2 separate regions of the Homo sapiens genome follow, and region 1 is linked to region 2. A link means that fine-mapping ties the variant in region 2 to the expression of a gene that starts in the linked region. Tissue or cell type: whole blood. Region 2 holds a variant in brackets; the other region holds the start of a gene. All regions are shown on one strand. Distances are from middle to middle.

Region 1 (5,000 bases), 28 kb after region 2:
TTTTTATTTGCTGTGATAATAGTACTGTAGTTATGTTAAAAAGAGTCCTTATCTTTTAGAGGTAAATAATTGAAATATTTACATATGAAATGACATGGTATCTGGGATTTGCTTCAAAATACACAGTATGTATGAGCATAAGGCAAGACTGGCCATGAATTGATAACTTTAATCTGGGTGCTGGTTACATGGGGGCTCATTATATACTTCTCTTAATTGCCATATATGCTCCTTCTCTATAAAACTTATCATATTCTAAATAGCAAAAACAGTATGTTACTATTATTTCCACTTCACTTGCTCTCCAGTGGGTATGTAAAGAGGGAAAATAAAAAAGGAAATGGTTGTAACAAACGTAGCCACCTAAAGCCAGGAAGGACAGGGCCAGTACCATAAGATCCATACACTCAACACATGAATCAAGTAGGGATTGTTTTTAAAAGGGATGCTATAAGCTACTTTTTTAAAAATCAACTTTATTGAAGTATAATTTACGTGATAAATGTATACATTTGTCCATCTCAATCTTTATTGAGATGTATAACTTTTCTATCCACATCTCTGCTAACATTTGGTATTATCAGCCTTTTGGATTTTAGCTATTCTAGTGGGTGTATAGTGCCTCGTTGTAATTTTAATCTGCATTTTCCTGAGAATAATGTTTAACATTTGTGCTAAATTTTGATTATACATATACATATTTTTCAATTGTAACAATGTAATAATCTCTGGCAAATATCTTTATTATAACTTTTATTTCTGTATTTCTATATTATTTTATGAGGAATATTATACAATTTGAACACTACAAGCCACAGAAAATGATCAGTTTATGGAACTAAGTCCGACTTCCAGGTAAAACGTAACTATGGTATGGTATTTACAGTTTGTGTTGACTAAAATAAGCTCCCGGCTGCCAGATGGAGCTATAAGGTTGCCACCTCTACTGCCACCATCTGGTAACATTAAAAACAAATAAAAATATAGAAACTATACAATTCTGGGTTAGCCAAAGTCAAATTTCCAACACAACTCTTTCTCACGCACAGATCTTTGAAACTATAGAATGCATTCAAACTGATTTGTTCTTTAGTTTTCGTTACTTTTAAATAAACTATATTACAAAAGTGTCAAATAGCAAAATATTTTAATTTTCTCAAATTCAGGGAAGATGCTTTATGACGTACCTGCTTTTCGATTTGTTCCAAGACCTTTGGCAAATTACTTTAGAACTCCATAGGTATCTTGAGGATAACTGAACCTTTTCCTAACTTAAATCATAGACTGCCAGACGGAAAAAAAATGTCCTCGATGTTTTTAGTCTCTTACTGCACAATGTCAAGATATCAGCTGGGTTATACAATAGTTGCCCTCTGCATACTCACAAATGTTAACTCCAGTCCTTTTTTGTCTTCCCTCCCCGCCTAAGAAGCTACCAGGTCACATGCTGGCGGATACGCAGTGGCGGAAACCTAGCGGTGACAGGGAAGGACAGCCCTCTGCCTACTGATCTGCAGGTTTCTCCTCCAGTTTGCTCTTACACCGGGGTCCTCCGCTCGGACCTTAGCCCATTCATTTGATGATTCTCTCCCAGTTCGTTCTTCCACTGGGTCCCTTGCTCAGCACTACCCAAAATAACCACCAGCTCAGCGCCGGCTGCACCGCCGCTCCCCCGCCCCCGCCCCCGCCCCCGCCCCCGCCCGGTGGGGCTGCACCTGCCGAGGCCCCGGCTCGGCTCCGCGATCACGGTCGCGGCCCCCGGGGTTCCCGAGGGGCTTCTGCGCACCGAGGCAGGCGGGACTGAGCGGCACTCTGAACGGGCTCCCCTCTTAATGTCCCCTCGCGCCTGAGCAGCTCCGGTCCCGCCGGCGCAGGGTGCGGGTACCCGGGCCATGCCGGCCCAGAGACCGCCGCCCCCGGTACCGCTGCCCACTCGAAGCCCCTGGACGACCCCGCCGCTTACCGGCTTCGGCCCGTGGGGCGCCCGGTAGAAGAGGCGTGCGGTCCGTGCTCTCCTCGCCATCGTTCCGGGCCAGGTCTCGAACCGGAGACCTCATGACGCCTACGTGAGCAGGTGTACTCGCCACCTGGCAGAGAAGGGAGCGCCGGCCCGACAGCCCGAAGCCCCCGGGCCGAGCTGGCTGGACCGGGCGGGGCGGGGGCGATGACACCGCCCCGCGGCCACGTCTAGTCCCCGCGGTCCCGCCCAGAGGCGGCCGCGCCGACTCCGCCCCCGCCGCCATCTTAGGTGTGGGCAACTCTGGCTTGGGTTGGACTAGGGAAGCGGAGTTCTGGGAGTTCTCGTAGGATTGGCGCAAAGTGAGCCCGCTCCGCCCGCCGGTCTACGCATGCCGGGGAGCCGGTGTTCGGACGACCGTCTCCCGCTCCTGCACCCCCTTGTAAAGTGCAGGGGCCACCCTGCCCGCAGCGAGGATGAGTGGGGGCTTGCGGGCGGGCAGTGGGGACTTGAATTGCACATAATTAAGGGGAGGGCTTCGACCGAACTAGGGAAGTGGGTGGTGTGCATTTCACAACTTGACATTCGCTTGTTAGCGGTCAGTTGCCATACTGTTAGCAACCTTTGTACGATCTACCTCGTGACTGTGGCGGCATATTTACCTCGTGACTGTGGCGGCATATTGTCCCTAAAATAGCTTTTTTTTTTTTTTTTTTTTCTCCCAGGCAGGGTCTTGCTCTGTTGCCCAAGCTGGAATGCAGTGGCGCAATCGCAGCTCACTGCAACCTCCAACTCCTGGACTCAAGCGATTCTCTTCAGCTCCCCCAAGTAGCTGGGACTACAGGAGCATGCCACCACATCTGGCTAATTTTGTTTCTACTTTTTATTTTTGTAGAGGCTTGGTCTTATTATATTGCCCAAGCTGGTTTCGAACTCCTGGGCTCAAGCAATCCTCCTCGGCCTCCCAAAGTGCTGGGATTACAGGCGTGAGCCACTGCTCCTGGTCCTAAAATAGCTTTTAGGCGGAAAAACAGCAATGGAAATTTGTTGAGTCCTATGATGTTGCTGGTTTTATAGGTAAAAGTAATCAACATAGGTAGTTTCATATGGTTCGACCTATGGAATCCTCTGATGTATGTGTGCATGCTTTATCTCCACGATAGAATTTGGATAGATTGTGCTAGCATTTGCGGACTCTGAAAGTGAAACTAGGAAAACCCAGCTTGCCTTGGCAGGGCAGATCTGGATCCGCCAATAAAGGCTGTCTCTGTGGAGGTAGAAAATAAGATGTAGATGCTCTCGGAGAGTTTGGTGTAGACAGGGAAGACCCACAAGCCACTAATTCAGTAAACCAGGTTAGAAGCTTAGTGAGGTTCACGTGAGAACAAAGGGGAGGGTCCTTTACCTAGAAGGGAGGGCGAGGATTTCTGTAGGCATCCCTACCTCCAGATCAGTAAATGCTAGAAAAGTTCTCAAGTTAAAGCAGCAAATCAAGCCTTGTTTCTGAGTTACTGAATTACCATGTAGATTTTTACACTCTCTAAGGGTTGTAGAAAAATGCAATTTTCAAACTGGATTATGCAGAGTCACCTGGCAAATCCTTTTAAAATGTAGATTCAGATTCAGCAGATCTGGTGTGATGGTTAATTTTATGTGTTAACTTGCTGGTTGTCTTTGGATGAGGTTAACACTAAAATCATTGAACTCTGGGTAAAGATGGCTGCCTTCCATAATCTGGGTGGGCTTCCTTCAATCAGTTGAAGGCCTATCTAGAATAAAAAATCCGACTCCCCCACTTCTCTTGCCCAAGCAAGGGAGACTTCTCCAGCAGAGTGTCCTCAGACTTCATCTGCACCACAGGTCCTCCTGGGTCTCCAGGCATGTGCACCATCATCTGTTTTGGGTCGAGTTGGCCAGCCTATATTGTGAAAGCCAAAACTTTATTACCCAAACTACCCAATTGGGGCTGTTTCTCTGAGAAGCCCAGTACATCTGGGATGTGCCTGAGATTCTGTATTGCTAACAAGCTCCCAGATGACCAAGGTTATAGATAACTTGGGCCAGGGAATATAGTTGCAACAGACTTGAAAGACTTCAAACCAGAGGAATTCTTTTTTTTAATATTTTTTATTTTAGAAATTTTAGGTTTACATAAACGTTGCAAAGATAGTACAGTGAGTTCTCCATACCCTTTGCTTAGTTTGACCTATTATTAAGATCTTACATTAGTATCATGCATATATCATAACTAACGAGCCAGTATAGATAATTATTAACTGAAGTTCATACTTAATTTGCGTTTCTTTAATTTTTACCTAATATCCTTTTTCGGTCCCAGGATCTCATCCAGGATGCCACATTACATGTCTCCTTAGGCTCCTCTAGATCGACAGTTCCTGACTTTCATTGCTTTTGCTGACCTTGACAGTTTTGTAGAGTACTGGTAGGTTTTGTAGAAAGTGTCTTAATTTGGGTTGTCGAATTTTTTTTTGAGACGAGGTCACGCTCTGTCGTCCAGGCTAGAGTGCAGTGGCACGATCTCGGCTCACTGCAGCCTCCACCTCCCAGGTTCAAGCGATTCTCCTGCCTCAACGTCCCGAGTAGCTGGGACTATAGGTGCATGCCACCACGCCCGGCTAATTTTTTGTATTTTTAGTAGAGATGGGGTTTCACCATGTTAGCCAGGATGGTCTCCATCTCCTGACCTCCTGCCTCAGCCTCCACCTGCCTCAGCCTCCCAAAGTGCTGGGATTACAGGCATGAACCACCACCCCCGGCCTGAATGTTTTTCTTATAATTAGACTGGGGTTATGGATTTTTGAGGGAAAGGTCATAGAGGTAAAGGGCCATTCTCATCATGTAATGTCAAGGGAATGTGCTGTCAACTTATTTATCACTGATGTTTATCAGTAGTGATGGTAAGCCTCATTGCATGCCTGAGGTTGTGTTTGTCAGGTGTTTTCACTGTGAAGTTAACTCTTTTCCCCCGGCCTTACTTTTCTCTTTGGAAGGAAATCAGTATGTGCAGCCTTCACTTAAGGGG
Region 2 (5,530 bases):
CTCCCAAAGTGCTGGGATTACAGGCGTGAGCCACCGTACCCGGCTGAGCTGCCACTTTTCTTGATGAGTCCTTTGTCAACTACTTCGCCAAGCAAAATAATGGCAGATCATTAACTATAACATAGTCAAACACATTGCTCCCTTTAAATATTATTATATCAACAAATTATGGCTGGGCATGGTGGCTCACACCTGTAATTCCAGCACTTTGGGAGGCCGAGGCGGGCAGATAACTGGAGGCCAACAGTTCGAGACCAACCTGGGCAACATGGTGAAACCCTGTCTCTACTAAAAATACAAAAATTAGCCGGGTGTGGTGGTGCGCAGCAGTAATTCCAGCTGGTTAAGAGTCTGAGGCATGAGAATTGCTTGAACCCGGGAGGTGGAGGTTGCAGAGAGCTGAGATCACGCTACTGCACTCCCGCCTGGGCGACAGAGCGAGACTCTGTCTCAAAAAATAAAAACAACAAATTATTTGTAATTTTTAAGTTATAGCAAAGAAGTTTTTTTCTATTAAGATGTAAATTTTATGTATATTCTGTTTATTTCATCTATCAATCCTTTAAAAAGTCTATTTCTGTATATATTTTATGATATACATAAGTATCATAGTACATATAGATAACTTAAGAATAAATATACGGCCAGGCGTGGTGGCTCATGCCAGTAATCCCAGCACTTTGGGAGGCCGAGGCAGGCGGATCATGAGGTCAAGAGATCAAGACCATCCTGGCCAACATGGTGAAACCCCGTCTCTACTAAAAATACAAAAATTAGCTGGATGTGGTGGCGCGACCTGTAGTCCCAGCTACTTGGGAGGCTGAGGCAGGAGAATCGCTTGAACTCAGGGAGCGGAGGTTGCAGTGAGCTAAGATCACATCACTGCACTCCAGCTTGGCGACAGAGCAACACTCTGTCTCAAAAGAAAACAATATATATATATACATTCAGATTGTGAGCCTCCCACCTGTTTATTGATTCTTGCATGATCAAGAAAGCTTGGATACCACTGATATTTAGGGCATCAGATTTTTATATTTTCTATACGCTAAGACTGTTGTTTTTCTCAAAAGCAAGAGCAATCTATGTTTCTGCCTTCAGAGTTCACAGTTGCTGTTATTTTAAAAAGAGGAAGAACCAGTATTGCCCAACCTTCTTCTGGCCTTTTTCATATGGACTTTTTACTTGACATCTTTGTAGATATGCTCTTGTGTTTTTTAATTACAAATTTTAAAAAATTATTATTTATTTATGAGATGGAGTCTTGCTCTGTTGTCCAGGATGGAGTGCAGTGGCGCGATCTTGGCTCACTGCAACCTCTGCCTCTGAGGTTCAAACGATTCTCCTGCCTCAGCCTCCCGAGTAGCTGGGATTATAGGCACCCGCCACCACCCCTGGCTGATTTTTGTATTTTTAGTAGAGATGGGGTTTCACCATATTGGCCAGGCTGGTGGTGAACTCTTGACCTCAGGTGATCCGCTAGCCTCGGTCTCCCAAAGTGCTGGGATTACAAGCGTGAGCCAGTGAGCCATTGCGCTTGGTTGTATTTTTTAATATGATCAAAGATGTACAGATATAGGGAAAGAGAAGGAGAGAGAACATTGATTCTTTTACAGCAGTGGTTTTCAACTCCAGCTATACTTTACAATTATAGGGGCCTGTGTTCTACTCTCTGCCTATTGAATAAACAAAACAAAAACAAGTAAGGCAAAAAAACTCTGAGTGTAGGGCCAAGGAATCTAAGTTTTAAAAGGCTTCACTGGTGATTCTATAGAGCAGTGGGTTCCCAAACTTTGCTGCATATAAGAATCACCCAGGGGAGCCTTAAAAACACTGAGACCAAGGTCACACCACAGACCAATTGAATAGGTTGTGGGTGGGTGGGAGGTAAGTATCCCTAGTTTTTGAAGATCCCTGGGTGATTTCAATGTGCAGCAAGTTTGGGACCCACTGCTGTAGAGATCAGATTTTAAAAAGTCTGCCCTTATCCTTCTTGATTGAAAAGCTCAGGGCAGAGAGGATTTTAGAGTTTGAAGGAATTTGGAACATAGCTCTTTTTATATGGCTTTGAAATCCACAAAGGAAGTGAAATCATTCTTTTATGCTGAAAGGTACAAGTGTAAATGTATTTGATCTCTGAAAACTGAATGTATTCTGAAGAATGTACCCTACCTCTTGGAAACATAACCTGAAATAAGAAATATTTAATTTTAGTCACACTGGTATGTTTTCACAACCTATAAATATCAATTGAGTTTTTGATAATCTGATGTTTTTGAACAATCACCCAACCAAGATGAGCTGTATGTCTAACACATAAGCCCTTCACATGGCAGGTTCTCAATAGCTGCTTATCAAACGAATACAAGGCTCACAGGGTTAGAGGCTTAGAAAGAAGAATGTGAAATGTATGTATTCCAGCTTAGTGTTCATTTGTAATCTAGGTACAACACAACAGTTTTCTGTTCTCCCAATATGAATTGTAAGATCAACTTATAGTATTTCCACATTACAAGTTATATTTCAGGGGGAAAGTCTTCATTTATAAAAACTTTCAAGTTAAAGATGAATTTTCAAATGTTACTAGGAGAAACTATCCGCGTATCTAGCAGACATTTATAAAAAAATCCTTCAAGAGTTTAAGGTAGTGCTGTCCAGTAGAACTTTCCATGATGATGGAAATGTTTTATATGCACATTGTCCACAGGGTAACCAGTAGTTACATGTGGTTATTAAATCTTGTCCTTCTAACAGGTTGATGAAAGAAAATGAAGTGAAACAAAACCCTTGTCATATGTGTGACATATGTGTGACTGAATAACTAAATTTTTTTATTTTTAGATGGAGTCTTGCTCTGTTGCCCAGGCTGGAGTTCAGTGGAGCGATCTCGGCTCACTACAACCTCCGCCTCCTGGGTTCAAGTGATTCTCCCACCTCAGCCTCCCGAGTAGCTGGGATTATAAGCACTCACTGTCATGCCTGGCTAATTTTTGTATTTTGGTAGAGATGGGGGTTTCACTAAGTTGACCAGGCTGGTCTTGAACTCGTGACCTCAGGTGATCCACTCACTTTGGCCTCCCAAAGTGCTGGGATTACAGGCGTGAGCCACCACGCCTGGCCAGAACTAATTTTTTTTTTTTTCTTGAGACGGAGTCTCGCTCTGTCGCCAGGCTGGAGTGCAGTGTCGTGATCTCGGCTCACTGCAACCTCCACCTCCCAGGTTCAAGTGATTCTCTTGCCTCAGCTTCCTGAGTAGCTGGGACTACAGGCGCGTGCCACTATGCCTGGCTAATTTTTGTATTTTTAGTAGAGATGGGATTTCACCATGTTGGCCAGGATGGTCTCTATCTGTTGACCTCGTGATC[T/C]GCGTGCCTCAGCCTCCCAAAGTACTGGGATTACAGGTGTGAGCGACCGTGCCTGGCCAAAACTAAATTTTTAATTAAATTAGTTAAATTAAAAATATAACAGCCACGTGGAGCTAGTGGCTACCATACTGGACAACACAAGGTTGGGCTTAAGAAGGTACAAAACAGCTTTTTTTGATGTTCTGGATCTAGAAATTATTCTCTTGCTATTGTTTCTAACACACTACTATCTTGCCAATCAAGCAATGTAAACACATACTCTCGATGGCTTCATCATATCTAATTGTTGGCAAAAAATTAAAAATTATGAAAGCATTTTTTTTTTTTTTTGAGAAGGAATCTCACTCTGTTGCCCAGGCTGGAGTGCAGTGGCACGATCTCAACTCACTGCAGCCTCTGCCTCCCAGGTTCGAGCAATTCTCCTGACTCAGCCTCCTGAGAAGCTGGGATTATAGGCACCTGCTACCACACCCGGCTAATTTTTGTATTTTTAGTAGAGACAGGGTTTCACCACGTTGGCCAGGCTTGTCTAGAACTCCTAACCTCAGGCGATCCACCTGCCTCAAAAGTGCTGGGATTACAGGCGTGAGCCACTGTGCCTGCCACTTTTTTTTTTTTTTTTGAGACAGGGTTTCGCTCTGTCGCACAGGCTGGAGTGCAGAGGCGCGATCACGGCTACTGCAACCTCAACCTCCTGGGCTCTAGTGATCCTCTCACCTCAGCCTCCTGAGTAGCTGAGACTACAGGCATGTGCCACCACACCGGGTAATTTTTAAATTTTTTGTAGAAATGGGGTCTCCCTATGTTGCCCAGGCAGGTCTCTAACCCCTGGGTTCAAGTGATCCTTCCACCTAGGCCTCCCAAAGTGATCGGATTACAGGCATAAGTCACTGCACCTGGTCCTGAAAGTTCCTATTAGAGGGCTACATTATTCTAAAATACCACTGCTGATAAAAGAAAATACATATGCGTGGCTGGGCGTGGTGGCTCACACCTGTAATCCCAGCACTTTGGAGGCCAAGGCAGGCGGATCACTTGAGGCCAGGAGTTCGAGACCAACTTGGCCAACACAGTGAAACCCTGGCTCTACTAAAAATATAAACAATTAGCCGGGAATGGTGATGCGTGCATGTAATCCCAGCTACTCGGGAGGCTGAGGCATGAGAATCGCTTGAACCCGGGAAGCAGAGGTTGCAATGAGCTGAGATAGTGCCACTGCTCTCCAGCTTGGGGAACAGAGGGAGACTCTGTCCTCCCCACCCCCACCCCCCAAAAAGGAAAATACATACAGGCAAAAAAATTTAAAATTGCTCAGATCATTTGCTCAGCCAACATTTTGAAAGCAAATATACTTTGGAGATTTAAATGATAATGGAATTTGTGAAGGAAAAATCAATGAGATCCTGAATCTTGTATTCAGAATGTATCATCGAATTTCTAATAATAGCTCAATCAACTTTTTTTCCATATAAGTTGAAACAGAAAAGGACAAACTATAAAAATTATTTGTCATGAAATGTGTGAAATATAGAGGGTAAGATCACTCGACAAATACTTGAATATATTCTAATATGCCATTTAAAAAAAATTTTTCTTGTCAAATGCAAGTAACAGCAAATTGATTTAGCAAAGTTACATGTAAAAAATGCTCTTAATTTCTGTCTTAATTTGACAACTAAATATTCAAACCAAGGTCCCCATTTGATTTGCTTCGCAATGCTGCAAAATTGTATACTCTTCCTAAAAGGCATAAAGGAGAAGTAAAACAGTTACAAAACATGCTATCTTCAGGCTGGGCATGGTGGCTCATGCCTGTAATCCCAGCACTTTGGAGGCTGAGGCAGGCAGATCACTTGAGTTCACAAGTTCAAGACCAGCCTGGGCAACATGGCAAAACCCTGTCTCTACAAAAAATACAAAAATTAGCCAGGCTTTGTGGTACACACCTGTCGTCCCAACTACTTGGTAGGCTGAGGTGGGAGGATGGCTTGAACCCGGGAGGCAGAGGGAGGCTGCAGTGAGCCAAGATCATGCTACTGCACTCCAGCCTAGGCAACAGAACCAGACTTTGTGTCAAAAAACAAAACAACACACAAACAAAAACAAAAAACAAACCCAGAACCAACCAAACAAGAAAACCCCATGATATCCTTGGAATTAAGAAA

What was found.
Region 1: it holds the start of SLC17A5, and the variant in region 2 is fine-mapped to the expression of SLC17A5 in whole blood (TOPMed, PIP above 0.99).

Annotation. Positions count from the first base shown.
Region 1 is chr6:73,651,830-73,656,829 of GRCh38, forward strand. SLC17A5 (solute carrier family 17 member 5) reads right to left here and starts at 2,163. Exons shown (of 11, transcript NM_012434.5): 1 at 1,964-2,163. The coding sequence starts at 2,057. RefSeq lists a silencer at 1,609-2,278 and an enhancer at 3,278-3,367.
Region 2 is chr6:73,623,952-73,629,481 of GRCh38, forward strand. All of the region lies in intron 6 of SLC17A5 (solute carrier family 17 member 5), which reads right to left. Among named protein-coding and RNA genes, the nearest start is that of SLC17A5, 27 kb to the right of the region's middle. The variant T/C (reference allele first, on the strand shown) is at 3,366.